2 linked regions of the Homo sapiens genome follow. The protein of the gene in region 2 purifies or fractionates together with the protein of the main gene of each other region. This does not show direct contact. Each region holds a gene or a part of one and is shown on either strand. Other genes may lie near its edges. The genes, in order: ZDHHC17 and FAM135B.

The links.
Region 1: the proteins of FAM135B (region 2) and ZDHHC17 purify together in Homo sapiens (affinity purification with mass spectrometry; 3 studies listed by BioGRID and IntAct, with this or other methods). This does not show direct contact.

What each region holds. Positions count from the first base shown.
Region 1 is NC_000012.12:76,834,273-76,851,114, reverse strand, and holds part of ZDHHC17 (palmitoyltransferase ZDHHC17), read right to left. Parts: intron 9,134-16,842; coding exon 9,009-9,133; intron 8,197-9,008; coding exon 8,134-8,196; intron 5,407-8,133; coding exon 5,313-5,406; intron 4,520-5,312; coding exon 4,436-4,519; intron 2,883-4,435; coding exon 2,725-2,882; intron 1,740-2,724; coding exon 1,645-1,739; intron 269-1,644; coding exon 130-268; 3' UTR 1-129. UniProt on the Homo sapiens protein: Palmitoyltransferase that catalyzes the addition of palmitate onto various protein substrates and is involved in a variety of cellular processes.
Region 2 is NC_000008.11:138,126,272-138,143,113, forward strand, and holds the end of FAM135B (protein FAM135B), read right to left. Parts: intron 16,839-16,842; coding exon 16,741-16,838; coding exon of another isoform or gene 16,737-16,740; exon of another isoform or gene 16,724-16,736; intron 15,079-16,723; coding exon 14,927-15,078; intron 12,826-14,926; coding exon 12,715-12,825; intron 11,079-12,714; coding exon of another isoform or gene 11,038-11,078; exon of another isoform or gene 10,996-11,037; intron 10,990-10,995; coding exon 10,876-10,989; intron 6,528-10,875; coding exon 6,322-6,527; 3' UTR 3,752-6,321; downstream 1-3,751.

The sequences.
Region 1 (16,842 bases), on a different chromosome or scaffold from region 2:
AAAATTCACCATTAGCCCTACACATAGCATGCTCTTGTTCAAAGGATGTGGATTCGAGTGTGAGAAAGACACGGACAGACACAATTTTCAGGCACCACTCAGCAATATGCTTCATAGGATAAGATGTCGCTACACCAGCTGGTACCCAGATCCTGATATTTGGTCATATTCTATTGTATACTGCCTGGTCCAGTCCACGATAACAGGACGAAAGAGGCCACAGCATCGAAATTCAAAGAAGTCTATAATATTTCTTACACATCCATGGCTAAAAACAGCACCCCAAAAAGAAAACACGTCAGTCAGTACAAATGATTTAATACATGAATTCAATATAATTTTCGTGTTAAATATATTTTTTTCTAAACTTAAAAACTCAGGTTACTTGCAAGAAGGAACCAATTCATAACTCTATAAAATATATATGCCTTCATGTTTCTCCACTGCTCTGCCAACAATGATTTTTTCTTTTGCCAATTTAAAGACTTACACAATTATATTTTAAATTTATTCAAATGTGCATATACTTTCTGTGTTATATGCATTTTTATTTTTATTTTTAGAGATGAGGTCTTAACTATGTTGCCCGGCCTGGCCTCGAACTCTGGGCTCAAGCAATCCTCTCACCTCAGCCTCCCAAGTAGCTAGGACTACAGACATGCACCAACATGCCTGGCTCCATATGTAATTTTTGATAAAAACCTTTAATTAGTGGCTCTTTGGCAGGAGACAAACTATCTCTAAAACAGAAAAAAAGTAAAAGACAAAATAATTATAAATAGCATGAATCTGGCAGTGAACCTAAGGATAACAACTTAAAAAAGAAATGTCAAGGATAAGTTCATGAAATTTTAGTACTCCAGTAACACCTTTAGAAAAGCAGTCAGTTTTGGCCAGGTGCGCACCAGTGGTTCACGTCGGTAAGTAATCCTAGCACTTTGGGAGGCCGAGGCGGGTGGATCATGAGGTCAGGAGTTCAGGACCAGCCTGGCCAAGATGGTGAAACCCCATCTCTACTAAAAATACAAAAACTAGCTGGGCGTGGTGCATGCCTGTAATCCCAGCTACTCAGGAGGCTGAGGCAGAGAAGTGCTTAAACCCAGGAGGTGGAGGTAGCAGTGAGCCGAGATCATGCCACTGCACTCCAGCCTGGGTGACAGAGCAAGACTCTGTCTAAAAAAAAGAAAAGAAAAGCAGTCAGTTTTGTGCCTTATATAATTTTTGTACCTATGGGAGAATTCTCAAAACTACCCAACTAACTCTGTTTTTATTTAAAGGTCTGCTTGCTTTCCAGAAGTATGCCATAATTGACAGCACCACAAAAGCTGAAGAGTTGGTAATAACTTCAGTAAAACTCAAAGTTTTAAATATTTCATATACTTAGGACCCTACTATTTCTAAGCACCAGACTGAATACAAATTTAAAATTAAAAAGAAAAAAATATAAGGAGATATCACAACTTTATTATATACAGTTAATGTGATGAATTCTGTTTTGTTGTTATTATGGTGAACTGATGCTATTTCTACAGAAATCTTAAAAAGGTTTAAAAGCTATTTTACATATCACTAAGTAAAAGAGTCTGGTTAGTAAGAAAATTTTTATGACCAGGTAAAATATTAAATTTATAAATATGTACATACTTGAATGGGCTTTCAATAGACGTTGTTGTGACTTTAAAGTGCTTGTATCTCCTGGCATTCATTCTTTCATTTGTAGTAATACCTAAACATGATATCTAAGAGGAAAGAAAAAGCAAACCATTATTCTTGTTTTTTTTTTTTTTTTTTGAGACAGGACCTTGCCCTGTCACCCAGGCTAAAATGCAATGGCGAATTCTCAGCTCCCTCTTGGGTGGGCTCAAGTGATTCCACCCCCGCCACCTCCCCCCACCCCAAAACCCCCACCCCACCAGCAGCTGGGATTACAGGCGCATGCACCATGCCCGGCTAATTTTCTTTTTTTTGTTGGGTTTTTTTTTTTTTTTTTTTTTTTAGAGATAGGGTTTAACCATGTTGCCCAGGCTGATCTCAAACTCCTGGGCTCAAGTGATCCGCCCACCTCGGCTTCCAAGTGCTGGGATTACAGGTGTGAGCCACCATGCCAGGCTGCACAAACCATTATTCTTTCTAAATACTTAATATAAAAAAATTAATTTGAAGAAAACTAGGATAAAGATAAAAACAATGAAGTCTGTTTTTGGTTTTCCATCAGGAGATCATCAGAACTAGTTTACGTGGTATCATTTGACTGTGAAAAGTAGCCAGTTAAATGTGGAAAATATTTAAAGACAGGTTACTTGACACTGTGCATGGACAGGCGCTATTCCTGCACAGACAACCTCCCTATCAGCCTCTCTGAGAATGAGCTTTTAAAAATTAAAAAAAGGCTTTTGAATAAATATTAGTATTTGTGAATAAAAATACCATTAAAAACACAAAATTAATGTCATCATCAATCTGAGCTCACACATACTCAACTGGATGTATTTAAGTCAGGAATAACAGATTAAAATTTCTGTTGAGATAAGTACTAAAATTCAAAAGTTCACAATATGAGAAGAGGAAGGGGCAAAAGAGTGAGGTAGAAAGGAAAACTAAATTGAAAAATAAAATGAATATTTGAAGAGCAGGAGTGGTTAGGAAGAGAATATATTATTATCTTTTATGCAAGGATGGAAGAGTTTTCACTTAGTGCACTAAAAAGAATGCCTTTGCACATACCTGGTACATCTGACACATGAGTAATACAGCCACCCACATGAAGTGGAAAACACTGTTCAGGAACATCCAAAACATCCAAGGTGAACACGTGGCAATCTGAGTAATGTATGTCCAAAATCCATCCTTGGTGTAAGTGGTCTCACAGTGGAGTCCCCAGTCTAAAGCCAGAACAGAAGTACTCGTATTTACTCAATAATCATCCAAGCACCTCATATAGGCATTTGTGCTGGCACCATTTAGAAAACATAGTCAAACAGTCTAGATTTAACTGATGACATTCAATAGCAAATGTCTTTATACTCTTAAATAACCCTATTATATCTCAGTGAAAAAACACAGAAATGGAAAAGGAGCAGCCAATCTTAAAAAAAAATCACTGTATCTTCAGAATTAACAATTTTATTTGATTGGTATTGCATCACATAATACTTAGAAAAACATTTTCTTTACACAAAGATGAGAGGATATATGAAAGAGATTTTTTTGAAAGAGGGCATATAACATAATAGGATGGTGACATGAGCTTTTTTTTCCAGACAAGGTCTCGCTCTGTCACCCAGGCTGGAGTGCAGTGGCTCAATCAAGGCTCACTGCAACCTCGACCTCCTGGACCCAAGCAATCCTCCCACCTCAGCCACCTGAGTAGCTGGGACTACAGGCATGCGCTACCACACCGGGCTAATTTTTGTATTTTTTGTAGAGATGGGGTCTCTCTTCCTACGTTGCCCAGGCTGGTCTCAAACTCCTGGCCTCAACTGGCCCACCTGCCTCTGCCTCCCAAAGTTTTGGGATTATAGGCAATGAGCCACCATGCCCAGCCAAGGTAGGCCTTTCCTAATACAAAATCTCCTGCTGTAGGAGAGTTGCTATAAAATACTGCTGTTGTTGGCAAGAAAGTATTCTCCTCAGGTGTGCTGGGCCAGAAATTAGGTCAAGTTCTTTGACCAAATCTTCCTATTAATCTTTAACTGAGGTGGTAACCTCCTTTGGTTCATTAGGGCAATAACACTGATTATTTTTACTATCTGTGGGGCAGGAAGACTAGAAAATCATCCTTCCAAGACTTGTATTTAAACGAGGATCTAATACATCTTTATGCCAAGCACCACCAAGCCCTGAGGCATCGTAAGTGACGTATCCACTTAAACTCTTTCCAGACTGCATTCTCAATGCAACAAAAATCTATCATTTCCTTTAAGGTATAAAACCCACATGATGGAATAACAACTTATTCTTAAAAAGGTAACTTCTGATATTTACTAATATTCTCTAATAGGCAATAATTATACCTTACTTTTCAAAATATTTCAAATTCTCTGCAAATTTAATTTTAAGTATATTTTCCCAACTGCTTGGTAAGAAACAGAACTAAGACAATCACTTAATCTATAAGCTACTATAGTAAAGCAAGCACATGATGTGGAAAATGTTGATGTATTTCACCCAGAAGCTTCTCAAAGCCTATTAAACCAATATGTTTTTCAGAGGACACAAGTATTAAAAGGTGGTTAACTGCTAACTGTTTGCTTACACTGTATATTGGACATAATTGATAGAGCTGTATCTTTTTTCCCTTTTGTGCTTCATAAGGTGTCCAAACCATAATTTTAGTTAAACGACCTTTGTCATTATAGTAATTTGTTAGTGTGGTAAGTATAATCTAAGTATGCAGAAATTTGTTTTAAAAAGACCGAAAACTAATTGTACTCACAAGATATACAACCATAAATCATCCAGCAGATCATAAAAAGCAAGAAGAATAGGTAGCCCATAAAATATCTATGGTTGCCTGCACCTGAAGAACGACACAGAAGCAAGGTTTTTCAGCTAAGAAAAAAACAACGGGTAATGCACCTTTGAGGGGTATGCCATGAAAGGTGTGCTACAGTTTTGATGATAATCACACATACATTCATTATTTTATAAAGTGGTTTTCAGGAAAAATGTTTTAATAAAAATCTTAAATAAGAATGCTTGCAATTACACACAAAGATATAATGATGACAATGGTGTTCAAGTCCCAAAGAACTAAATAAATCACAATTCTGACCTCTAATCCTATTCTTTGTGAGGTTTAAAATAGCCCTATTTTATCTTTACTTTTATAAACTTTACAATCCAAAGGTTTCTCTTCAACAGAGGTAAACAATCTTTGTAATGTTTCCTGTCACCTCATAAAATCTCCGGGGCATGTCTCAAACCATGTAGTTTCTCTCCTTAGACTATACCATTCTTGAACACTAATGTGTGTACTGTTCTTATCTGTCATTCCTCTCTACCTCTGCACATAATATCATTTCAAATATTACCGCCTTCATCTCTCTAGTTTAACTAGAAAAAAAAAATTTTGCCTCCTTATCAAGAGTAGGCACCAGATAGAACTGACAGAGAAAAGGTATCAGCCACTAATTTTGTAATTTTTTTCCCTCCCTCTCTCAACTGAGTTGCTGTGTTGTCAACCAGAAGATAACTGAGAAAATGAAGCGTGGAGTAATAAACTTTCTATTGCCTACTTTAATATTATACTTTATTCATTACCTAAAGTAACTTAAATGAATGATACAGAAGAAATTACTAATACAACTTACCTACACAGTTACCCACCCATGGGCAATGATGATCAAATTTTGCTATACAGCGGTTGCACACACCACAATGTTTGGACCTCACCGGTTTTCGTATCTGTTAATAGGCATGTTAAAGGATTATGAAAGGCATTATACTAAGAGAGAAAAGCTGACTATTTATTTTCTCAAAATATAATTATAAAAAAATAAAACTATATTTTTTAAACAAGATTATATCAAGGTTTCCAAATGAATGAAACCAAAAGTCACTATTGTTTAATAAAATTTCAACTGCAAAAACAAAGAATAAAAGAATGAGGCTACTCTAGAAAATATGCTCTTAAGAATGGAACTGAACCATCAATTTACAAAAGCTAAGAATTACCAATTTGATTTGATGAATGATGCTATGTTTAATTCACATCCCTCAAATTTCTGAGTAATAAAAACATATCAATCTCCAGTCTTCTAAATGATGTTCCATTATGATTAATGGTCATGATATTGGTGTTTTTCAATAAAATAAAATTATTCCTTACTAGGAAGGTCAGGCTAAAAGTGAATTTAAAAAGCTCTTAAAATTCAAAATCATCAATAAAATATTTGTCTTCCCCAAATTAACAAATCCAGCAAAAACCCATATGTACACATCTATTTCTCTTCAGTAAAGTGCCTTCTGAGATCTCAGATTAAGGTACAGCATTTCTCCTGCTGAAATGACCATATTTAAGAATGCAGAACATGCTTAAGAAGTCACTATTTCTTGCAAAAAAAAAAACCCCATATAATTCATTATTCAGCTATTGACAGGCAATAAAGAATCCATGCTTATGATGTCTGTTTTTCAAGCATTTTGAAATGGTTTTTAAAACCTACATTACTCTAAATCAGCCAAGTGAATACAAGAACTCATTGGTGATCTTCAAAGGGCTGGCAGTCCTAATGCTAGACATATGATAAAAGAGCTGCAGTTATTAACTCTTGCCAGAAAAAAATTTATAAATATACTTCAGCGTTTCAACAAAAGCACTGCCATTTCTCCATTAGTTTGCATAAAGTTACACACTATTTTGAGGTACCAAGGAAAAGGCACAGTGAATACACAGTTCTTACATCTACCAAAATTATCTGTGGAATAAAGAAAAGGGTAAGTTATTCTTCACCACAGTTGTTAGACTAAATCTACTTAGGAGAAGGCAGCAGGATATTCAAACAACTTCTATCCCCACTTCCAACCCTCAGCTGCAACACTGTCAAAAATCTGAAAAACAGACTAACTGGTTAAGGTGTGACTTGGTCTCAAGGTTCCTTGGATCACTTACAAAGTAATCCTTTCTTTTTTCTTTTTTTGAGACAGGGTTTCACTCTGTGGCCCAGGCTGGAGTGCAGGGGTGCAATCAACAAAGTAATTCGTTTTTAAGAAAGCTCTGATCTACAAGCCTTAGGGACTTGTCTACTTACCAAAGTGAAGCATACCCATATAATGACAACTACCTCTGCTGATCTGCAAGATTTTATAATAGGAAATCTTCTTTACAACAAGAAGTATGTGGCTTATAAATAATATATAATAAAACATTTATGCTATGATGACAAAATTAGTCTTATTCTTGCCATCAAATATGTATTTGACAATGAAACTGCTATCTGTATTGAATGACTATATAATTTGTTTGCCATATGGCAAGTACATCAGCACTGCATACTTTGTGGAACAGTATATTTCCACAGAACAGCAGTGTATTAAAACATTCTAAATATTAAGAAAAAGAATATCAATTTTGTAAATTACCCATTGTAAAGCACAGAAACAAAAACTGTTTTCAGAATGCCGGAATATATAAAAGAATCTGGTCGGTATCCTAAAGTTGCTACCAAACATGAAGCTGTATATATTTTGAATATTCAAAATCATAACTGGTCAAAGAATATTAAGTGTAATAAAGAATTTTCAGAATTAGAACTGTTTCAAAACTTCATTCCATAATCCTAAATGAAGTCAATGACTTTATTATTAATCAGATGCTAAGACATGAGCTCACTTGCAGTGTATAAGTATAAAAGAGCATTTAGTTTTATGTATGACTTTGGAATATTTCAATTTCCATGTAGAAAAACATAATTTAAGCACTGTGGCAGTATATATATTTTTCACAAATACTAATTATAAAAACTAAGTGAAAAATAATTTAAACATAAGAGTATTATCCTACAGAAAATTAATGTCTATAATAATAAACAATCTCAATAGTGCTATACCTGACTCTATTAATAAATACTAGTAATTTCATATATATCTTTACCTATGACCTGGATGAGGATGACCACTTTAAAAATCTATGATAAAACAGTGTTCAAAGTTACATAAACATTCTGATACAAAACAAAACAAAAAAAACCACCTACTCAAATTGAACTTGTTTAGAGGCCATGTTGTCTTAACAGTTATCTAATGGATTTTCCCATGTGGCTTTTAAATACAAGTATAAATTTTCTTAAAATGTAGTAAAGAAAACAATCTATTAGGGAATCATTATAAATCTTTGATCTGAAATACTTTATTACTTAGTTTTTAATTTATTAACATTTTAAGCGAGAAAAGAGAAAGAGAATGAATACAAATAAACGGCACCTCCGAATCAAAAGTACAGTCAAGGCCTACCATCGAGGAATAAGCGCCTTGGGAAGCAGACATCCTTTAACCATCTTTCCTCTTATACCAAGAAGCAGGGAATGTGTTCATTGAAAATAATTATTCCTTTTCCCCACACCCCATACCCGCTATGCTATGCCACTGTCAGGAGGAAGAGAAGGGAGGGAAGAACAAAGAAGAAAATACTACCAAACAGGTACTGCAGAATATACTGAGGTCCAGACTTCCTGTCTCTGCAAGTTCAACTATTGTCTGTGAATTAAAAAAATAATATTTAATTCAAAACTGAACAATGCTCACCAACTCTTTTGCCACCACTATGAATCAATAAACATGATTTTCATCTTTAATTTACTGATGTTTTGAGTTCAAAAAGAGAAATAAAATCTTTTATTTACTGCTATTTCATTGCAAGAAGAATACAGGGTAGCAATCTCTATGCTGCCCAGAAAAAAGGGGATTAGACCATAAGAATCTGCCATTGTCTTAGTCAATTGTGGACTGGAATAACTTATCAAAATTTGTCCTGTTTTTAGAGACTAAATAAAACAGCTCTTAAAATAATCTAAAATGCTTCTAGTCCAGTTCTCTAAATACACAACATTGTTAGATTATAATATTGGTTTCCTAATTACCTGCATTATAAGAAAGGGATGCCCTGGATGGTATATACAAATATTTTAGCTACTGGGATGGTGTACCTGCACTATCAACCAATTTATTAACCTTCTAGTTTACATAGTCATTCAGCAAACATCTACTGAATGCAAATTATTTCCTGGAGATTTACAGAGATGTTTAAGACACCGTATTCACCCCTCAAAGCAATCACAGCAGTCTTGTAAGGGAGAGAAACACGAAATTATAAAATGTCATGGAAGTGTTATGGACAGGCATCACAAGAGCACCAAGGATGAGCACCAAATAAAAGATACATAATCTCAATTTAGCTTAAAACTTCTTTACATTCTAAACGATAGTTAATTCCTCTGTCCTCTAATGTCTGCTGTAAATACTGATAATCTGGCAGTTAAATACAAGTGACTTAGTTGGTATTTTGCTACCTTTTTCTTTTGCTCTTCTGTTGCTTTAATAATCCCTGGATCTGATTTCCAAGATTTTCCAAAATTGTAGAAAAGTGCAACACTATTGGCAAGGAATGGAAGATGGATAAATAAAAAGTTGAGATGTGCCTAAGGTTAAGGAATCTAAAGAAGCAATGATAAATGAATTACTATTATATATAAACTTATAATCTATAAAATTTTACAAAACACCTACCAGTCAAAAAAATACAAACTGTTCTGCATTATGTTTATAACTACATGTAAAAATAATGTGACTTCTTTATAAATTTTAAATCATGCAGACTTATCTGACACTTTAAAAGTTAGTGAATATATTAAAAAGTCAATGAAAATTTTTAAATGACTAATTTTTTGACAAAAATGAAGAGATTTCTCATGTTCAAAGTTATTAACATATACTTTATGTATATGCACTGCAATCTTTAGGCATCTACCAAATATTACAGATATCATACTCGTATATTTAAAAGATTGCTTTTAACTATAGGAAAGTCAAAAAAGAAAAATTCTCACTTTTGCCTTTTTTTGAACACACTGAAATTGATTTCAGAAAAAATATAAGCTTGCTTAAAACAAATAGTTTATATGTTCACATTTTTTCTATCTCATAAAAACGTAAGAAATATACTAGGCATTTATAAACACAAGTAAATTATCAAAAAACAATTTAAATAACACTATAAAAAATACAGCAATGTCGCTAGAGCAATACATTTCTGAGACACAAAACACCAGGTATACTCAAATACCATTTGTAAGATTGTATGTAGATACAAGTATTATACAAGAATTTCATAAGACTTTTTGACATTATCATGTGTACCCACTGTTTACATTTCTCATGAAGCACAGATAGAAAAAGAACAGCTTCTTGAATGAAATCATTCTATATTTGTTTGGAAAATACCAGAACACTCAATAGCCACTTGACATACAGGAGAAACAAAAGACGGAAGAAAAGATTAGTTATTATCACCTGGCATATTCAAAAGTGACTTATCTTTTCCTTTTTTCTCCAATCCTCTCTTTTCCCCCAACTTTTTCCAATCTTATTCCACAAAATATACCGGTATAGCCAGCAGAGAGTAAATAAGAAGTCAAACTTTCAGCTGTTTATTCTGGAGAATAAAGTGTGCAGAATGCTGAGGCTTGACATTACTCAGGGGCAGCACTTTTATTTATCACAAGTTTTGAAAAGGTGCCAACGTAACATGTAAATAAATAAGTCAAACTCTCAGGACCTGGATTAAATTTGCAGGGGGTCAGCTCAATATATGACTACATATTTGAAAGGTATATTAAGGAATTAAATACTGAATGAACTTTAAAAATGTCTTTCCTTGCTCTTTAATGATAAAGAAATTAGGTATCTTCAAATGGTAGACTGAATTTAGCTTTAGCAATAGATTAGACGAGCTAATTTTAAAATTTTAACTGAAATAGGCTGGACGCAGTGGCTTACACCTGTAATCCCAGCACTTTGGGAGGCCGAGGGGGGTGGATCACCTGAGGTCAGGAATTCGAGACCAGCCTGGCCAACATGGCAAAACCCTGTCTCTACTAAAAATACAAAAATTAGCCAGGCATGGTGGTACACACCTGTAATCCCAGCTACTGAGGGGGCTGAGGCAGGAGAATTGCTTGAACCTGGGAGGCGGAGTTTCCAGTGAGCCAAGATCACGTCATGCACTCCAGCCTGGACAACAGAGTGAGACTCAGTCTCGGAAAAAAAAAAAAAAAAAATTAATGGAAATAGGCACACTCTATGAATATATGGCTGTTTTCAGTATTAATTTTATTATTAGAGAAAATGAGAAAGCACTAAAAAAAGCATAAAGACAGAAACAAGAACTCTACAACCCAGAATTAAACTTCTTTTAATTTTGGTATTCTGCATTTTTAATTATGACTGGTATCATAATGTATCTAATTATTAACAAAATAATATATTAATCACCAACTATGTGCCATTTAAGCAGCACAAGAACCCTATGATAAATCCTGCTATTATCCCCACTTTACAGATGATACGACTGAAGCAGAAGCTACACTGTCCAAGATTACAGAGTGAGTTAGAGGTAGAGCAAGTATTAAAACTCAGACTCATATGACCTATGCTATTCGGCCTCGCCAAAGTGCTCAACACAATTTCCTATGCCAATAAATATTATGGAAACAATATATTTAGGTATAAACATTTTTAAGGCTTGAGATATAAATATACACAGACACTTTTATACTATTTTCCAGCAAGATATACCAGTTTATAACCCCACTAACAACACGACTGATCAGTACATTTGCATTAGCAGTAATGAAAAAACGCTGCCAATTTAAGAGGCAAATACCTGCTATTTTATCGTTTTAATTTACATTTTTGCTTTTATGTTTAAACAGCCCCCGAATTAAAGACAAAACAAGTATTTACCATCAATGTTTTCACTTAAATGTTTATAGAATCATTTTTTACATTTAATTCTTTAATCTAGTTGGATGTTTTCTGGATGTCTGCTATGAAATGCAGCTCTCATTTTATTTTTAAACAAATTTATCTAGGCTTTCTTTCAAAAATAGAAATTCATACACTAAATTTATTTACCATAATACTCAGCAAAATGAATTAAAAACAGTAAATCAAACAAACCAAGTGCCTCTCAAAATACTGGCAACAACTTCAGAAAGGAGACAGACCACATGTATCATAAAGTTCAAAACTGAAGGCCAAAAAAGATGATGATTCTGGCGAGGCAGGCTGCCTGAGGTAGCTCCTAATCCTGCTCTACCTGTACTAGCAGTATGAAAAACTGTAGATGTGAATTCTCACCCATTTCACCCTGGCCCTTTGCTATGGACTAAATTGTGTTTCCTCACAATGCATATGTTGAATCCCTAACACCTACAATCTGACTGCATCTGGAGATGTGGTCTTTAGGAAGCAATTAAGCTTAAATTAAGTCATAAGGGTGGGAGCCTAATCCAATAGGACCGTGGCCTTCCTTATATAAAGTAGAATGAGAGATTTCTTCCTCTTTCTCCTCACCATGTGAGAACACAGCAAGAAAGTCATCATCTGCAAGCTACAAAGACTGCCCTCAGCAGAACTCAAACTTGCTGGCACCCTGATCTCAAACTACCAGCCTCCAGAACTGTGAGAAAACAAATTTCTGTTGTTAAACCACCTAGTCTCTGGTATATCATTATGGCAGCTTGAACTGACTAATACATACTCCACTCCTCAGTCCCACTCAATTGGAGAAAAATAATTGAAATGGTGAGTAGATAATTTGAACAAGTCAAGAAAATCCCTTCAGGAACATAAGTCCCTGAATACCACTGCATGGCTTCCACTAAGTATCAAGAAATACCAAGGCTTGTCATTAATAAGGTGACTTAACAAAATTGAGGGGATGGCTGGTGGGGGATAATTCTGACATCATTCTATCTCTAAGGCTGCGTAGAATAAAACCTCAGGAAAAACTTTCAGCAAGATCTTAAGACAGCTAAACCCAAGTTTCTCAGCAAGAATTTACAATTGAGCTCTCTTTTTCTTAGGCTACAGAAAAATGAATAGAAATTTAGCCAAACTGTAACACTGAAGGCAGACATACAACTTCAATATCCTTGTACCAAACAGGACAGGAAAAACTTCAAAGATTACTCTAAAATATATCAGAGAAAACATAAAAGTCTGAATATATTTGCCCAGGTCAATCACGAGCAAGATGAAAGATGAAAAGAAATGGCATAACAACTATGCTAGTGTACTTAAAAACAAAACAAAAATAATAAACCAGAAAAAATGTGCACAGCATTCACAAAGCAAATAACCCAGTATGGAAAGCAGCCGCAAATTTGGACAAAGACAAATTAAGAACAAAGGCAAATTAACCAAAGATGCTTCATAATTAAATTAAAATATAAATCCTATAAAAGCTTAAACATAAGATCATAAAACAATTAGAACCAGATGAAAAGCGTGATTCTAGAAAAAAAACAGACTGAGATCAAACAAAAACCATTATACAATATATGAACTAAAAATTTATAAAGATGAACACAAGGAGGATAAAAACACTGACAATCAGTAAATGAGGGAAAAAAGAAAACTCAAAACAATAATTAGAGACAAAAACTGGACATGGTGGCATGCACCTATAATTCCAGCTACTCAGGAGGCTAAAGCCAGAAGATCACTTAAGCCCAGCAGTTCAAGACCAGCCTGGCCAACATAGTGAGACCTCCATCTCAAAAAATAATAATAATGATAATAATAAAGAGTAGAGACAAAAGTATGAACACAGATGACAAAGATAATTCAACACATGGATAGTTTTATCCCAGAATTAATAAATACATCAAACAGAATTCAGAGATCCTAACAGAAAATTTCAGATAAAAGAAAACCTTCATTTTTATAAATTACATATAGTATACAAATATAACCTCCATTTTAAATACTGCATCCTGAAAAGACACACTGTATATTAAGAAAATCTGAGGGACAATGATTAACATCCTCTGAAACATACTGGTTGTTTTTTAATCTCAATGGTAACAAATGTGTTCTTAAGTAAAGAGTTTTTTAACAGAGACAAGGTCTCACTCTGTTGCCCAGGCCAGAGTGCAGTGGCATAATCATATCTTACTGCAGTCTTGAACTCCTAGGCTCAAAGGGTCCTACTGCCTCAACCTCCTGAGTAGCTGGGACTATAGGCACGCACCACCACACCCGGCTAATTTTTTTAGTTTTTGTAGACCCTGTCTCTACTAAAAATAGAAAATAGCCAGGTGTGGTGGCACATGCCTGTAATCCTAGCTACTTGAGAGTCTGAGGCACAAGAGCCACCTGAACCTGGGAGGCAGAGGTTGCCCTGAATCAAGATCACGCCACTGCACTCCAGCCTGGGAAACAGAGTAAAACTCTGTATCAAAAAAACACAAAAACCTGAATCATTTTAAATGTGTTGCTGAGCTGTTAGTAAGAAAACCCCATGGAGACCAGAGATGATAAATAAACAAAATCTAAAGGTAAACTGGTTCAGAAATGTAGTGTCCACTCTTCAGGATTTGCTTATTCCTATATGCTATTTGCAAGAGACATGTCGAAAATTCAAGGCCATAAATTATTTAAAGCAATACTAATTAAAATAAATAGTCATTGCTAATGCTTTTTACCATGAGTCACTACATATTGATACAAGGTTCAATTCATTAGAAAGAATTCTAAACTTACACATACTTAATAATGAAACTCCAAAATATGGACCACAAAGAGAACCTCCTAAATATAGCAACACGGTAGAAGATTTTACCATAGGTCGCTCAATAAATGATGCTGCAAACAGATAAAAATTTGGTAATGATACAGTGACTTGAGCAACCCAATTAAGAAGCTTAATCTTCTGTATGGAATGCAGCTGAGGTAGCATACAAAATGTTACTTTTTAAACTTAAATGTTTCTAATAGAAAATATCAATGAAAACTAAACAATTTAATAAGCTAAAGAAAAAACTAAACAAGCAGACAAAAGGAAACAGAACATACTGAAAGTGAAAATAGAAAGGATTAATAAAACCTAAAGTTGTTTCTTTGAAAAATCCAATAAAATAGATTAGAAAATAGCTCTAATTAATACCAGGAATGAGAGGGGGGCACAGCAGCTGAGTTTAAAAAAACAAGAGAGAATGTAGCACATTTTAAAAGAAAAGAAATGGACAAATCACTAAAATATATATATATATACAATTGAGTCAAATAAACTATATATTACAAAATTCTTTAACATAAAGCAAATTCCAGGTAAAATGATTTTACAAAATCTAATAAACATGCAGTTAATAATTTCAATTTAACCCAAACCCTTTCAAAGAACATAAAAAAAGAACAAGTCTCCACCCATTTTGAGGCTATCATGTTGATATCAAAACATAACAAAGACAATACAAAAAAATTATAAGACAATTTCATTCACAAATGTACACGCAAAACTAGTAACATATTTAATCCAGCAATGTAGAGAAAAATAAGACATTATGCCCATGTCTGTTTACTCCAGGCATGCATAAGTGGTTCAACATTAGAAAAATCTATTAATATATTATTTAATATTAAAAGCATAAAGAAAAAAACATACACAATTCACAAAAAGTTAAAAAAAAGGGGGTGTAGAGGGAGAGGTTATTTATAAAATCCAAGTAAACACTTTATAAAATCACACTCACTGGTAAAATACTAGCCCTTTAAAGTCAATCTTTTAAAGATGATACCCTTTAAAGTCAGGAACAAAATGAGGATGCTCATTCTGTGTCTATTCCACAGTGTACTGAGATCCTAGCTAATAAAATAGGATGACTAAAGGAGCTAAATGCTATAAAGAGTAGAAAGAAAAACAAAATTCAGTCTTTATACATATGATTACCCCATGTCATATATCCAAAATACCCCAAGTTATTAGAAATAATAAAAGGCTTTAGCAAGGTTGTTGTCAATAACTAATCAGCTACATTTCTATAACCCAGACACAAACAGAAATTTTAATTAAAAATAAAAAATTCATAATTTAAAAAAATTAAAATTCTTTTAAAAATAAATCTAACAAGAGATATAAACTTCTACATAAGAAATTATATGACTTCATTAAAAAACATAAAAGGTCTAAGTATCAAAAGTAGTTACTTTCTGTAAATTAATCTACAGCTCAAATAGAATTTCAATCAAAATGGCGTAAGACTGGCTGGACATGGTAGCTCATGCCTGTAATCCCAGCACTTTGGGAGGCCACAGCAGGTAGATCACTTGAGTTCAGGAGTTAAAGACCAGCTTGGACAACATGGTAAAACCCCTTTTCTACTAAAAATACAAAAATTAGCCAGGCATGGTGGTATATGCCTGTAATTCCAACTACTTAGGAGGCTGAAGTGGGAGAATTGCTTGAACCCAGGAGGTGGAGGTGGCAGTGAGTTGAGATTGCGCCAATGCACTCCAGCCTGGGCAACACAGCAAGACTGCCAAAAAAAAAAAAAAGGCCTAAGGCTTTTCGCGGAACTCAAAGAGCTTATTCTAAAAAAAAAATCTAAATGGAAGAGCAAAAGGCCAAAAAGAGCTAAGATATTCCTGAGAAATAACAAACTTGGAAAAATTACCCTGCTCCAATATAATTTAAGAACAAAACTACAGTAATTAGATTATACAGTGTTAATACAGGCAGACAGATCAATAAACCAGTGTACCTAGGAAACATGATGAACATCAAGGTTGAGACTGCAACTGAGTGAAGAAAAGGTGTGCTGGAACAAGGACCTCTCTAATGGAGGGAAAAAGATACTGATCCCTCCCCTCACATCCATCTTCATTTACAGTAGTCAAATGCACATGATTGAGAATGTAAATTATAGAATATCTTTAATAACCTCAGAGAAACTCTTGTGGGAAAAAAAGATATACAGCAATATTATTAAAATTCATGAAAAGTGGTGATTGGATAACTGAAGATAGACATTAAAAAGCTTAGAGGGTATTAAAAGGAAACTGGGAGAGATACACAGAAAACAGAGAAGTCTAACAAGTAACCTACAGAAAAAAATGCTTAAGAGGGAATGCATGGGAGATAACTAATTCTGCACATTCTTGATTTTTTAATATATGTAATCATCCCAGATTCTGCACAGTTTATATCCTTCTTGAGTTTAAAGAAGCTCAATTAACTTAAAGCCACATTGAAAAATTACTTATTTTCAGACATAAAATTTCTAATAAACTTTTGTCAATATTTCAAAAGTGTTGTCAACACAATAAGCAGTTGACTATACT
Region 2 (16,842 bases):
GCAAAGAATGCAACAGTTCATCCAACTACACTGTTGACAATGCTTTATATAACTACCTTTGCCACTAAGTTTTTCTTGCTGTTTAATTTATTGGTTATGTAGATGTCTCATATAAGAATATATTATAATAGAAGGCTCAAAAGGTTATGGTTTAGGAGATGTGGACTTGAACTCTGGCTTTGATTTTCACAAGACATGTGACTTTTACAATTAAGTAACTCTCTGGGTTGGAAAAATCATAGAATAAAAGATAAAATGAAGGCTAGAAGTTCAAATCTTGACTCTACCACTGCTAAACTGTGTAATTGTAGGCAAGTTACTTGACTTCTCCCAGCATCATTTATATGTTGTGTGGGATTAAATGAAACTATATATGCAAAAATCTAACCAACAAATTTGAATATTGTAAATTATTTCCATTTTTGTTCTTCTTCATTTGTTAAAAGTTAGATGGACAAGAGTCCATGTTTGTTTTAGTTGTAAAAGTTTCTGATTCTGTGATGACACAAAGTTTGAGGTTTGAGGACTGTTTTTCTAAAGTACTGTAATCACAACTACATCTATGAAACAATGATACACACAGTCTTTATAATTTGGTCATAAAGAGATCAAATATAGAGAAATAACCTGGTTTAATGATTCGCAAAACACTATTCAGCAACACCCATACATTTACATTTGATCTAAAAGCTCAGTTCTATATATTCTGCTCTTTCTCTTCTGTAACAGAAGTCACTGGGATCCTTTTCCCAATAATTAAAATGGATTATTACAGGGTTTGTGCACTGAAAACTCTGTATTATTGAATACTATATTATTTCCATTGAACATAAAAAGCTCTGGAGAGAGTTCCACTTTTCCAAATTGTCCATAGTGTTTTCTACTGAAACTTAATTAACATCACACATAATTGCCCAGGTGCCATGGAAAATCAAGCTAGAAACAAGTAAAGAAAAAGGTAAAATTGATAAATAAAGGCAGAAAGGGAGGAAAAAGCACAGAAATCCCGAGAAAGCCACCTTAAAGAGTTTGAAAAATCTCCATGGTGGTTTCTCTTCATTTAGAGAGTATATGTGCGTGTGCGTGTGTGTGTGTCTATACACAATATTGTATATAATGTCACCACAATGACCGTGCTTTGTCATATATAGATCAAGACCTGTCTGGTCAAGTGAAGCTGGAAATGCACAGTTCAGGATATAGACATCAGATACAGTCTATATGAAGCAGCCCATTTTTCCTCTTCCAATTCTGATATTCATTATTTTAGACACCAACAGTTAAAAGTAAAACACGGCCGGGTGAGGTGGCTCACGTCCGTAATCCCACCACTTTGGAAGACCAAGGCAGGCAGATTGCCTGAGCTCAGGAGTTTGCGACCAGCCTGGGAAACAAGGTGAAACCCCGTCTCTACTAAAAATACAAAAATTAGCCGGGCGTGGTGGCATGCGCCTGTAGTCCCAGCTACCCAGGAGGCTGAGGCAGGAGAATCACTTGAACCCGGGAGGTGGAGGTTGCAGTGAGCCAAGATCGTGCCACTGCACACCAGCCTGGTGACGGATCCAGACTCCGTCTCAAAAAAAAGAAAAAAAAAGTAAAACACTCAGTTTTATCATTACCCCAGATCCTTCTAGTGTCTAGGATGACATGATTTCCTAGTACAGTACCCAACACAAAATAGATGTTCAATAAAACATGTAACAAATAAGTGAGTGAACAATTGAAATAAAATGATCCAGATGCTAGCGTGTAATGCTATATTGGGATGGGTGCCTTGCGAGAAAATTAACAGAAAGCGTAATTGTTGTTCTATGTGTTCTTTGCCATGGCCACACTTCTTTTTTCCTTCAGGACCCCCACAACTGTCCCTAGCAGCCCTGGTTATTTCTAATGCTCAGAAATATATGCTGTGAAACCAAAGCTAATGGCATGGGGGAAAAAAAGTAGCAATTACATTCAGGAGCTTGCAAATACCTGAATGCAAGCTTTCAAATAAGTAGCCATGTGCGTAGAGAGAGATGCCATCATCTTACACAGCGAGAGCCAGCTGAACACTTGTTCGCCTCCTAGCACTTTTAAAGGCTATTTTTCTTCTTTACAGAAACACCTTGGTTATGTGCCATTATTTATAGTGTGTTCTTTGCCATTCATGTACTACATGGGTGATCTCCCTGTTGGTTTCTCCCAAAGCTCCTTCTGGACATGGGCTTGGCCACACTCACTGTGCCTATAACTTTCTGCTCTCTGTCTACTTTCCCCTTGCATGTATACCCTCCATCAGGATGGGAAGATTATTTTATTTTATTTTAGCTTTACGACCAACACCTGGCTTGTGCCAGGCTATTAGGAAACATTTGTGGCCGAAGGAAGGACTATAGTTTTGACTAAGTTACCCCAAGCTTGTGGGGGCTGCAGACTGCTTAACTGTAAGCTGAGGATTGAATAACTTTCTTTATAAAATTTTTATGATCAAAAGCAGCTTGTGTGATCACCTTAAATACCAATACAAGAATTTCACTTTATTGCTTCCATGCATTAAAAAAAAAAATTTTAACCAAATGACTATTCCCTCTTCTTAGCCTGTTTATATAATGCCATTTGTTACAGTTTTTCTCCATGAGAAGCCCAGCAGACATGTCTACTATGCTTCTCAAAAGAAAATTTCAGAAATGAGTGATGGTGGAGGATGTGGCTGGACTTCTCCCAAGACAGGAGGGATCAGATCTCTAGCAGAGGGTGAAGCATGGAGCGACACATGATGGCAGGGGCAGGCCTTGCTCTCCCAGGGGCTCTCCTTACCAAGTGGAAATTGTCCTGCTAGTGTTAACAATGGAAATTTCCTCCTGATAGAAGAAGAAAATCCTGCATGGCAGCTGACTTCTCACACCTCTGTTTTGCTACTTTTGTGCTCAACCATATTCTCCATCTGCCTTTGCAGTGGTCAAAGGTTCCCAGCCCTCAGCTCTCGCCTGAAGCCCTCTGCTCATTCTGTCCCTCTTGGAGGGATCCACATAACCCACCTTCGCCGAGCCGGCTCCTACTCAGCCTTCGGGTCTCGGCTTAGACACCAAACCCTCCCAAAGGCCTTTCCTGACCATCTCTACCCCACATCCCTGCTGTAGGTGGATGCCCCTGCTCTGAGCACACACAGAACCATACCCCTTCTGTGGGGCCACCCACTTCGATTTCCCATTTGATCAGCTGTGTTCCTTGCTAGATGGTAAGCTACTAAGTTTTACCAATGCATCCCTGGCACAGAGTAGGTCCTCAAGACAAACTCGCCAGATGAATGAATGAATGATATAATGGAAGAGTGCACACTGGGGTGACGGGCTGTGCAAGGTAAATAGTCTCACCTTTCAAGTCTCACTCTCAACGCTTCCTTCCTGGCCTTCCCCAGGCAATAAGGAGTGGATACCTAGGACCAAGGAGCACCAGCCCCGGCCTTCCTTAGCGCTTTTGTTATATCCCATTGTGATGATAAGACCGGATCTCCCTGGAGTTCCTGGTCAGCATGGACTGTGCATTTTACCTCTGTGCTCCCATCTGGCACAGATGGATGGAAGCTGCTCAGTAGATACCTGTGAATTGTGGAAGCCAACAGGGGGCTTTTCCGTCTTCACCTTCTCTCAGGTTCACAGCACTCCCTCTGCTTTCAAACTGCCATTGGGGTATTTGTTTTGCTACAAGATGACTTTGGGTTCATACCTGCTTCCCTGGATTTATTTGGCTTATAAACAACAAATTCCAATTAATCTCAATATTGGGCATTTTTATTTCTAACTCATTTTGGGAAACAACAAATCATAAAAACAAAAACAAAAATTACGCAGAGAATGAAGACATACAAGACCATTATCTTGGCAGGCATTTTGTTTATAATTTTTACAATCAATAATAGAATGTCCCTGTTTTACATAATATATATTTATATATATTTTATGTATATATATTTATATATTCGATATCTATATTTCAATAGAAAGAGACATAAAAAAGCCTTTTCAAATGAGGCATGACACGCAACACTCGACACTCTTATTTACAATATAGAGATGTACTTTCTACACAATTATAATAGATGCTCAGAGGCCAGAGAGGGTTTACAAAGACAGCAGAGCACCCCTATAAAAAAGAGGTGCACCATGCAGCTGGACGTTTATTGCCATTAGTTCTCACTATGTCCAGACAGCATATTGAAGTTAAAAATGGCATCTGGTTATTGGAGAAGATGATGATCATCAGATTCATCCCGGCTCCATAACCGCGGGCTACACAGTCTTTCAAAGGACCAGGGAATGACGAACATTGCTGATGAAAATTGGAAACACAACATGAAATGCACTCATCAGAGGGACAGGGCCCATCATTTGGCCAGAAAGGAGAAGCTGCTACCAACTTATGGTTCTGTACTGAGCATGGGCACTTGCCTAGGTCAGGAAACACAATACCATGTGCTGCACGACTAGGGAACAAATGTCTCCCAGGTTACAGAGCAAATACAGCACTCCTCATGAAGAACCAGAGTCTATGCCCAGCTCTGACTCGGGAGCTCAGATAAAAATCCCCAGTGGAAAGTGACCAGAGGACTCAGTGAACCCATATGCATTATGACCAGGATATAACAAGCATTTAGAAAGGACTCACTGAGAAACCCTAAATCCATTGTGTGGAACTCTGCCTTTGCAAGACATTCAACTCTCCCTCAACGACCCTCTCTTTCTTCAAAAGAATACCACATGTCTACACTCCTGCAAAGCTGCCCATCTGGACTCATTCCCATGGTCTGCTTTTATTTTTCAAAGTCACATTGTTAACATAAGAGGATCTAAAATTCTCAAATGAGCTTAGATTTACTTGGTTTTGTTACCATGGCATCAGTGACCTAGAGTCATGGTCTAGGTATTGAGAACCCTGGTCCTAGATGCGTTTCCACACTTCAGAAGGGATTTTTGCAGAAGCAGGAGCTTTCATCTCCAAAAGATTAGGCTCCTGTCTTACTTATCCCTACTGTCCAGGTTCATTCATCTCTTCCATACAACGAAATGATTCTTTAGGCTTACTTTAGCCCATACAACATACTCAGTCTTTGAGACCTGACTATTAAACATCCTGGTAATTTTCAAAACTCCCCTTTGAGTCACTTACCAATAACAGCTTATGTTGAGTCTTCAGTCTGGTTGTTCTCCTCCTATCTGATCTCACTTTTGTCCCTGTCGTCTATTGGTTTTTATCAACGCAGTGACCTTTCCTAGCCCTTTATTTTCCTAAGGCAAGAAGACATTTCTATTGAAAGATAGCCAGCACCCTTCTTAGAGCTCCCCTGAGGTTTTAATCCAGCACTCCTCCATTTAGATGTTTTCCTCCTTCCATGGAGAGGAGAAGCAGCTGGCCACTTTAATGGATTTAATTTTTTGCAATTGCATCAAATGCTAACATAGCATGTCTTTGGAAGTGTATCAGCAGGAGCTTCACACGTGTGTGCATTCATCTCAGTGCCCCCTTCTGCTAGGTTAGTCTCACTCAGTGTTCCCTACTACAGACAAAGATGTAAGCAATCACTAAAATAATTTGTGGATCAGGGCTCTGCATAGAAGAATTCTGGGGAAGTAGGTGGAGCAACTATTCATAGTTCAGTATGTCCCTAGAGTCATGTTTCTTTGTAACAAACTTGTATTTACCAATAGTGTCACCTTTATCCCTCTTTACCTTAAGTCACCCTGCTCACTGCTGTTATGAAATAGAACTGGGATTTGTAACACATTCCTTGCTCCCTTGTTTAGAAAACATGAGGAGAGAATATGAATATGGGCATCACATTTTCTTGAACAACTGACACATTTGAATCTATTGAGGATTCTATTTACACAAATATGTTCCACTGCTGCACAGAGATTAACCTGAGTTCTGAAATGCTTGTGTGCACTTAATCAGAAATGATAAAGCTATAAGCTAGTAACATATTCGGCAAGTCTAGTTAAATTGGAGTAATCTCTCAGTAAGCCAGTAGTGGCTAGCAAGGGGAGCTCACCAACTCCCAAGTATTCTGTTTATTCTCTCATATTTTTCCTAGAAAACATCTTGAATGACACTCCAGGTAACTATACAAATTCAAGCAAAGTTTGTTGTCATTTAGTCTATTTGCTCAGCTTTCTCGAATCTCCAAAACAAAAGCACCTCTCATGTCAGGTTCCACCCGAGCCTCCGTCCCCCAATGCTGTTGAAGCTTCATTCTGAAATGGTGAGGTCTGTAAAAGCAGGTCTCAGCTAAAGCTCTCCACCGATCGTAAGCATTACCAAAGACCTGCTCCCTCAAAGCCACTACTTGAAGTAGTTGAGTCCTGCCACCAAGAAAAACTTCTCCAGGAAGAGTTCTGAATCCAGCACAGCGATGTGAGCGGCTCGGCCGATCAGGGTGTTGGCAGTGTTGGGCAGGGCGTGGAACACGTTGTGTCGGATTAAAGTGCAGTCCTTGGCTTCAACCAGAGGGCCCAGGAGGTTGTTGATCATTTCTGCATAAACTGGCCCTGTAAAGTGGGGAAGAAGGACATGAAGCTGGTGCAGAAATTAGCAGTGGAATCTAGAGAACATCACTAGATGTGTGTCGAAATTCTGTTCCTGGGCAGACCTGTTATACAGCAGTTTCCAACCTCTTCCTAATGTTAGTGAAATTAATATGAAATAAAATCAAAGTTCTCTTTTTCTAGTCAGATGACAATAGCCAGAAGTCAGAAGGGGATTCCTAATAGCGGCTTTATGAACCCATGCACCGGAAGTTATGATAGCAGTGTTCGTGTTTCTCAATAATAGCTGTACCTCCCAGCAGGGTAGCAGAGAAGGAGGCCAACACCAGAGAGGACCCTCAGAGTTTCAAGTTCTATTTCAGGGGATCTTGGGGGTTGGAAACACAGCTCAATAGAGAATTGAAAGCAGACATTTTCTGATGTCATGCATAATGGAAGCCATGTGGCATTTCACCCGACTCCTCTGATTCCAAAGAAGGAGAATGCAGTTTTCTTTATGTTGGTTTGTTTTGTTTTTACAATTGTTAGTCTGAATTGACTGTTTCCACCTGAAAGTGACACAGTTGCAATTTTGCTTCAGGCCATGGAGGTCTTGGAGCCATGCAGTGCAATTGAATTGCTGAACAATAGATAGATTTGCACACCTGGATCTACGATTCATATCTCCCAGCCCTGTGTTCTTCTTTTCTGAAAAACTGTTTATGACAACTTTTGTATCATTGACAGACACTTTCTGGAATGATCCTGAGAGCTGGGATATTTTACTTTTGACCAACTGGGGAGACAGTAATTGGAAGTTGTAAGTCAGGTGAGCTTCTGGGTACCCACTCCAAACAACCGGGTCTGTTTTACAAAGCCAGTAGAGCAGTCACTTTGGATGATGAAAGAGAGCTTATTCTGAGTTTAACAGTCCACAGCCTCACTCTGGACACTCTCTCATGCCACGTGAAGGAACTCAACACCGTTTTCCTTTTCCCTCCAGTTATCAGCAGGGGAGAGTACTTAGAGGTCTGCTTTCCCAGACTGGGATGGACAGCTGGACCCCCCCATCACGCATGGGGTATGTATTTGGGGGTGTTTCTTTTCCCCCCCTTCTTAGGGTCTTGGTAGGAGCTTTGACGTAAAGGGAATTGTAACGTGAAATTGAAATAATTAGGGATTTCGTTGTAGCCATGTCAATTCAGCTAAAAAGAATTTGGGGTTAAAACAAATGGTATGGTCATTCCCAAGAGCCCATTAATGTCTTAGAGTAGCGGTCATTACAACAGGCAATAATATGATGTGAGGTTATGCCACAGTAATTTTATGTATGAAATAGTCCTTCCAAGGGAAAAGGGAGGTCAGCCAAATTCAGCATCAGAGGAATAGTTAAGTAAACCATGCTTTGTGGGCTAAACAATTCTGTGCTCCTTTAAAATGATGTTTATGAACATTACGTAATAATATTTTTTAAATGATGTATGTGAATATTATGTAATAACAAGAATAATGAATAAATGTTGCCAATAAATGGAAATAGAAGCATATATTGTTACACAAATACCATAATTTGTTTAAATTGTATATGCAATAAAGGTCAGAAGGTCATTTATTTAAAGAAAAAAGTCACTCAAAATGTAGTGATTACTCAACCAGATCATTTTCTGCTGAGACCTTGATTGGTTTCATAAGCCCTGGAGGCAATCACTGGTATATTTTTTAACATTTATAGCAAACTCTTATATGTTTTCTCAAATACAGCACTGTTTTTAAATTGATGGACTTTTGGGATAGGGGCAAATTATCTACATGACAATGTAGAGAATAAATTGGAAGGTTATGTGAAGTCAGAGAGGTTGAGAGGTATTTTATTTCAGAATTTTTGAAAAATAAAAATATTGGTACTTCTTCCAGAAAAAAAAAAGTGATAATCATGTATAAACTAAACTTCATATCAAGTCTCCCAATCTGTTTAATTCACCAATTAAGCCACACTTCTTTGATGTCCGTGTAAAAATGTAACAGAAAATATAAGTTTAACAAAAGAGAGGGCGATTTTTTCTTAAGATGACTAACAGGAAGATTAATCAATTTAAGTCATATATTAATATCCTTTGAAGATACACTCCCTTTTCCTTAAATGGCCATTGTGAATATCAAATAAGATAAGCAAAGCGCATGAATTGTGCCCGGCCCATAATAAATACAATTTGCTATGCTAGAGCAGGAGTTGTCAGACTTTCTCTGTAAATATTTAAGGCTTTCCAGGACGCGCAGTGTAACTACTCAACATAATTCTGAATTCTAGCGTGAAAGCAGCCATATACAATATGTAAATGATGGGTGTGGCTATGTTTCAATAAAACTTTATTTACAAAATGAGAGATGGGTTGAATTTGGCTTGTGGACCATAGTTGTTGAACTCTGTTCTTAAGGCTTTACCAAGGTTGAAATGTCAACAAAAATATTTCTCTATGTCAGGGAGACAAGAAAGTAGGCAAGGAAAATTAGCAAATCCCTGCACAAAGAAACAGTTTGGCTGTCTATTGACCACAGCTATGTTTAGTCAAGTCTGAACTGAAAACCAGATCATTGACTCTTTATTTATTGTCACAGGTCTTAGCATATAATGATGTCCCATGGGCAATTAGAAAATATTTAAAAATGGATTAAAAATATACATAAAAAAGCATCAATATTTAAAAATTCAGGCTGAAAAATTATAAGCAAATATCTTTAAATTAATATTTAATCTGAGAGACAGTAGAGTGAGATAGGCAGGCACGAATATACTCTAACAGTACACGTGTTGCTGGTATCAATATTTTAGAAGGGAATTTGGCAAAAAACTTTAAGAGTAGTAACTCATTAACATTTTCCTCCAATAATACCACTACTAGAAATCGATTTTAATGAAATACCATAGATGTATTAAAAGTTTACACATGCAAAGTCTTTCATCACATAATAACTAAAAAGGAAACCTTCCAGAAGCAAGCTCTATGTGCAGTAATTGAGAAGTTGTTAAATTATGGTATATGCATATAGTCTATAATTATTAAAATGTGTTTGTATTTATGATATTTTATTAACATGGACAAATAACTATATTACTCTAAATCAAATCATGACACAAAATTATAACATTTATCATGAACACACATGAAGAGACAGACTAGAAGAACACGAAAAGTAGGTAGTGATAGAGGTGGAGTTAGAAAGGATCATAAATTATGTAAATGAGTTTGACTTTTTCAAATATTCTATAATGTTTTTAATCAGAAAAAAAGAATCATTTTAGAATATGCCCTGTGTTACTTTTCATTACATATACTAGATGGTATAAAACACAATGCTATTTTATGTATTAAAACTAATTTTTAAAAATTTTTTCATCAAAATTCCTGTTGGATTTTCTAGATACCAGGGAAAATTTGGAATAGACCCAATTATATATTAGCACCAAATCTTTGGACCTTTGGTACACTATTTTTTGATAGTACCTTAAAATATAACAAAACTACTATTTACTTAAAAAATAATCAATATGCCTGACATAGAAATATACAAATTAGATTGGATTCTGGAAGAGAAAGGGGACATTAGTGGACACTGACATAATTTAGATAAGGTCTAGAAATTAGATAATAATATTGAATCAGTATTAATTTTCTGATTTTGATAATGGTACAATGGTTATGTAAGATGCTAATATTGGGCATCAGAGTGAAACGTATGCAGGAATTTTTTGTACTGTTGTTGCAACATTTTTTGAGTATAAAATTGTTTCAAAATTAAAAGCTAAAAACATGTTTTTAAAAAAAAACAATTAAACAAATTAACCAAAGGAAACCACAAATGCCAGCCCACATCCATCTTGATTGTCTGGAAAATTCCTACCTATCCTTTAAAACCTAACTCATTGTCATCTCCAGGGATCCTCGTCTGACTCTGTCCTATGTCCTGTTCCACTTCTGGGCTGCCTTAATGCCTTAGGCATTATTTTATTTTTTGACTTATCACATTTTACTCTCATTGCTATTACTTGTCGAGGCTCCAACTAGACAATGTGCCCCTTGAGGGCAGGGCCTGTCTCATTGAATTATACATCCCAGTCATCAATTTCAGTGGCTGGCACACAATAGGACTGAACAGAAGTTTCATAATCTAATAAACATGTGACTGTTTATTACACAAAGGAAGGATCTGGCACAGTAACATCGAGATGAGCTATGTTTGTCCTATCACTAAGCTAAGATAAATGCAGCACTAAACCTATAGCCCAGGTGTTCCCAATAGGCAGTCAATTCCATGAATTTACTTTTGCTTTTCAAATTAGAAAGTCCCTGAGCAAAAATTAAATGTAGCTTACCTGTGTGTCTGTCTTTGAGGGCAGTTTTACACATTTCAATCCTGGCTGAATGAAATGGCACATAACGGTCTTGGGGAGAAGCAACCAGCACGACGTTTTTAAAATACTGCAGCCCTGTAAAAATTAGCCAGATGAGTGCTTTTTACCCAGGTAGTTTCAACTTCAACACCCTCTGGAAATTTGCACAAATTTCCAGACTTGTCCTATAGAGAGAAAAAATGTTGACACACCACACACTAGTGTCATCACACAAGGACATTCTGTCCTGAGGTTTAACAATGCACAGCAGATGGCATAGAGGTATCGCGGGGGCCTATGGGAGGTTGAGAAAAGAAGTCACTAAGCAGGGGCTTTGCGTTTGTGAGGGGAGATGAAGCCTGCTCTCATCAGCCATGAAAGCTAAGGAGACACACAGAAAGCTACTCTGGACACAGAGAAATAAGCAACTAGAATGGGACCAAAAAAGCCTTTTGGGGATAGAAATATTAAGGGGTTCATAAGGAAAAGTCAGTCTGACTATCTTGTTCTTCCTCCTCAACTCCAGCACCTCTCCTAATTCCAGCCTTCACCACGTCCCATGCTTTAGGAAAACAGCCTCAGAACTCACCTCTCTGCAGCCAGTCTTGCCTTCCTGCAATCTGTCCCCACAATGCAGACAGAGGGACCCTTCAAATTAAACATCACAGTGTATCCCTGCAGGCCTCAGAGCCCATCGTGAACTTCCTGAGCACTGCAGACTACCCGGACACTCCATCTGTACTGAGACTGTCCTTCTCATTCCCCAGATCCTGCTGGGTGGGCGGCTGTCAGCTCTTAGCTATGTGTGCCCTACTGAAGTGTGGGTCCCCTCATCAGACATCACACATTGGGGGCAGCCTACTTCAACAGCTGGCCAATACATGGGCGAGGAAGACAAAGGTGTAATGGTCAGCCCCTCCCCTTCCTTCAGGACAGCTCTCCAGGGCCACCCCAGCTCCTGCACCCCTGATGGACTCTACAGTGATCACACTGCAGTCCCACCTTCTTCTGCCAAGCCCTGCCTCCCTCCTCCTCCTCCACAGGAGATAGCTCTAAGAGCTCAACTCAACACACAGAGGCAGAAAGTAGGAAAGGAACTCAGCCAGGCTCACAGATGAGCCCGTGGCTACACCAGATTCACAGGCACAGAGGGATCAGCAGAGTCAGTGTTTACAGGACGGTGGAAGATTGTGACCAAGAACAGACCCTGGGCCAGGCCAGCTTGTGTGGTGGGACTGAGCAGGGCAATCAGTCAGCTGCTCCACTCGCCGACTGGACATGGGGACCACTCGGCAATGATCACCATTACTGCTGTCCTCTGTGGACATTCCCATGTAGCAGGTAGGGTCTTCAACACCTCTATGCACTTCCACATGACAGAGAGAGGGTGCAGGTATCATAGCAGGCCTGCCTGACAATGACCCCCGTCTCCCACTGCACAGTCAACATCAGTGGAAAATGTTGCATCTGCCTTTTTTGTAGATGGGCCTGTACCTGGGTGAAGCTGGCACACAGATCTTAGGCCTATGCAATGAGAACATTGAAAAACTGGCACAAAGTGGAAGCTACAGCTTCTGGCTATTGAAATGATCTTACACACACCTTGGCTCAATCTCTCACGTGCCATATGGGCAATGGGCAAGAGGAGCTGAGTTCCTGGTAGCTGTTGGCCTCCCAATGAGCCAAAGAGGCTTTGAGTGCTGGGCCTCCTGACTAGGCCCTTCTGTGAGTGAATCAATGTAGCATTATATCTCATTTGTGTCTCAGGAGTTGAATCCCAAGCTCAAACTCATAACTGCAGCTGTGGGGGAAACCACTGACCTGTTTTTTGGCTTAGTTGGTAGAGGAAACATTTGCGCAAATCAGCATTATCCCTGAAGGTCAGCTGCAGTAGAGACCCGGATTTCTTCAGTTTCTGCATGAGCCATAAGCCTAGGAAGACAAAAACAAAATAAAAATCAAAAACACAAAACAAAACAAAAACTAACTGGGATGGAATTTTGGTGAGATGAACGTTAAACTGAATTTTAGTTAACTTGAAAATAAGAGAGAAGTAGGCATACTAGCAAATAGTTGGGAAGTTAGAGGTAAATTTGTCCTCTCACGTACTGGTGGAAAGGACTTAAATCATCCTGCAAAAATGATGACAGGACAACAGCCTTCGGAGTAAGAAACTACCCACACTCTTCAATCCAGTCAATCTCCTTCCGAAAAAGAAGCCTAGGGTAATAATTTTCAATGCGAAAAGAATATAAAATGATCCTTACAGATACATTTAGGATACAGTAAAGCTAAAATAAATGTCTCACTTCACAACTCATCTGTTGGCTGGGCATGGTGGCTCATGCCTGTAATCCCAGCACTTTGGCAGACCGAGGCGGGTGGATCACCTGAGGTCAGGAGTTCGAGACCAGCCTGGATAAAATGGTGAAATCCCGACTCTATTAAAAAATTAGCCAGGCATGGTGGCAGGCACCTGTAATCCCAGCTACTTGGGAGGCTGAGGCAGAAGAATTGCTTGAACCTGGGAGGCAGAGCTTGCAGTGAGTCGAGATTGCACCATTGCATTCCAGCCTGGGCGACAAAAGCAAGACTCTCTCTCAAAAAACAACAACAACAACAAAAATCTCATGCGTTTAGCTAAGCTTAGGCAAACACTAACATTGATGAGTGTAAGGATTACATAACCACAACAAGCAAATTAATCTGATAGAAACACAAGGAAATAAGCAAGCTATGGTATGTACATATATTACACTGACTGCTACGTCAATGTGTGTGCACAAAGATAAGTAGAATGAAATATATAAAATTACTCTGGATATGCTAGATTGGAGATATTATTGGTAAAGTCTGTCTTTTTAAAAAATATTTTATGATGCTGCAAGATTCCTTTATAACTGTGGGGGAAAAATGTAGTTTAACAAATTTGTTTCTGTCCAAAGAATGGCTTCCTTGGTTTGGGAGGAAAGACAGAGTGCAGAGGAAAGGACTTCCATTTGTTATGTGCCATTGTGTCGGATAACTCATGTTCACAAGTATGCCATAAAATAACTTAAAAGCAAACTAACTAAACTGACCAGGCCATGAGGAAACAACGTTAGTGTGGGAGAGGACAGGGGACAGTGGCAGAGGCCTGGAAGATTGCAGGGACAAGGAAGCTTATCAGGGGTGACCCTAATGCCACATAATGGGTTTGAACAATCAGGGACTACTGAGGTAGTTGTTAAGAACATGATTTAATAAACGATTTGTTATTACATATAAAACTCAATGCCCTCCTTGGGCTTCCATACACCAAACCATGTCACCTCCTCAGTAAAATCTCATGAGTAGTATCTACAAGGTCTACAGGGTAAGTCTAACATATTCTGGAGTCAGTCGAGGTCCTTCTTTGTCTGACTCTTGCTGATATATTTAACCTCCCATAGATGTTAGTCAACCTTATTTCCTTCCCCTGTGTAATCTTCAACAATTCTATGATACACATATGCACATATGCACCTACACACCATATATATGTATACATACTTACATTGTGTACATGCTTGTACACATACATATATGTATACATACATATACACAAACACAGATACACACACACATAACCTCCATTTTACAAACAGGAAGACTGAGGAGCACAGAGATTAAATGTCTAGGCCACAGTCTCCCTCAAGTGTCCTGGTCAGGACTTAACCACAGGTTTGTCATGCAGGTGGCCTGATTCAGAGTCCCTGTTCTCTTCATCACAACACCGTGTCTTGTCAGTCTTTTCCAACCAGGACCCCAGAGACATTGCCTTTTTTTCACAGAAATTTGAAGGCAGAAATGATCCTGGAAAACATCTAGTGTCACCTCACTCAGCCCCCAGACACAAGGGCCACACCTCTAAGGCCAGGACTCCTCCCTCCATGCCATGCTTGGAAAAGACTGCACAGTCACAGGGTTCCAAGTGGAAGTACCTGTGCCCGGTTTCACGCCCCAGAGGCCCCAGATTAATTCTGAGGAATGACGAGTCCTAGAAGAATCTTACCTGTACTAACCAGGGTGCTGTTGTTGTACAGGGTTCCCAGGTGAGGCCCAGAGAGTGACAGGAACGTGTGGAGTTTGTTGAGGTAATACCGGAACCGGGGCCGTGTGAGGACCGATCGGATGATGATGTTGCCAAGAGAATGGCCAATGAAGCTGTGGAGAAACAGAAGGGGTACCCATGAGTGTGACGGTGAATGCTGCTGCCCAAGAGTGCAGTGCTGGAAGCATCAGGGGCCATTGTTCTCCACCTCCCACTGAATGTAGGGGAACTGGCAAAGAGAACAGGGACTGCCAACTCAACCTCATCAGGTTTCAAAACACTGGCCATGAGAAGCCTGAGATGGGGTCTTTGTGAATGGGAGCTTTGTGCCCAGTCAGGGGAGAAGTGTGGGCATTTCAGCCAGCTTCATGCTGCTAGAGCAGCCTGCTTTAATTCCACCTGGGGGAAGGGAAGGTCCTTCCTGAAATGCACCTCTGAGCATTGAAATCTCCTGGTCATTCACAGGATCAAGTCCCAAGTCCTTATCCTGCTTGGGAGGCCATTCATATACGGATGGCCTCACAATGCCATTCATCCTCTCCTTCACCCGCTGTGTATATATTGAACCACCTGCTCACAGCCCATGCTGTTAGACCCCCTCCTGCAGGCTCTGCTCCAGCCATACTGCTACTCACAGGCCCACGTGTTCAATGAATCATTATTCTCAAGTTAAATACTTATTTATTGAGAGCCTATTATATGAGAGGCTATACCTCCCCACCTCTACTCATGATGAGCATAAAACCATCCAAGAAAAGAAATCAGTGTCACCCTATGAAACTGCCTCACCTAGCTTTTCTTTTATTCTTTTTTTTAAAAATCTAACCTCTATAGGCTTCATTTGTGGAATAAAGAAGTAATATTTTGTATATGAAGACTAAATGGGATAATGTATATCAAGGGATTAGCACTATGTCTACATATTCAATTGCATGAAAAATGCAAGCTGCTTACTAGCACTGTCGTCACTGAAACATTTGGTACAGTGTAAGAATAAAAGTAGTGCTGATTGAAACTCTCTCTTTGGGGTGGGCAACTCATTCTGCTTCTTCTTTTTTTTTTTTTTTTTTTTTTTTTTTTTTGAGATGGAGTCTCACTCTGTCGCCCAGGCTGGAGTGCAGTGGCGCAATAATCTCGGCTCACTGCAAGCTCTGCCTCCCAGGTTCACGCCATTCTCCTGCGTCAGCCTCCTGAGTAGCTGGGACTGCAGGTGCCCGCCACCACTCCCAGCTAATATTTTTGTGTTTTTAGTAGAGATGGGGTTTCCCTGTGTTAGCCAGGATGGTCTCGATCTCCTGACCTCGTGATCCGCCCGCCTCAGCCTCCCAAAGTGCTGGGATTACAGGTGTGAGCCACCGCGCCCGGCCTTTTTCAAACATCATCTCAGTGCTAGTTCCTCTTAATAGATAAGAAAACAGAGGTTTAGAGGTTTAGAAACCTTGCAAAAGGTTATATATCTGGTACATGGCAAGAAACAAGATTCCAACTTGTGAGTGTTAGAACAAGAATTCAAACCTAGGAATTTTTGTTTTAAGTCCAAGACTCTTTCTACAGAACTACAAAATTTTTATTCTCCCTGACACAAACTATGGCAGAGATGAATGTGTACGCCAGACCTGGTACTTACTTCTGCTTTAAAAGTAATTTATTAAAAGTCACAAGTTAGCTTAGCTCAGTGGTATACAGAAGGCATCATATTATTGCTTTTATACAGCAAACACTCAAAAATGTCCCCCCTCTTCCCCCAGCATTAACTACCTGTGGTTTCCTTTTACCTAATTCGGGATATGGAGAGGTTGTACAACTGAATGTGTTGAATGATTTCATCCAATAACCGATCCGTCATAGTATCAAAATCTGCAAATGTGTCCATCTGG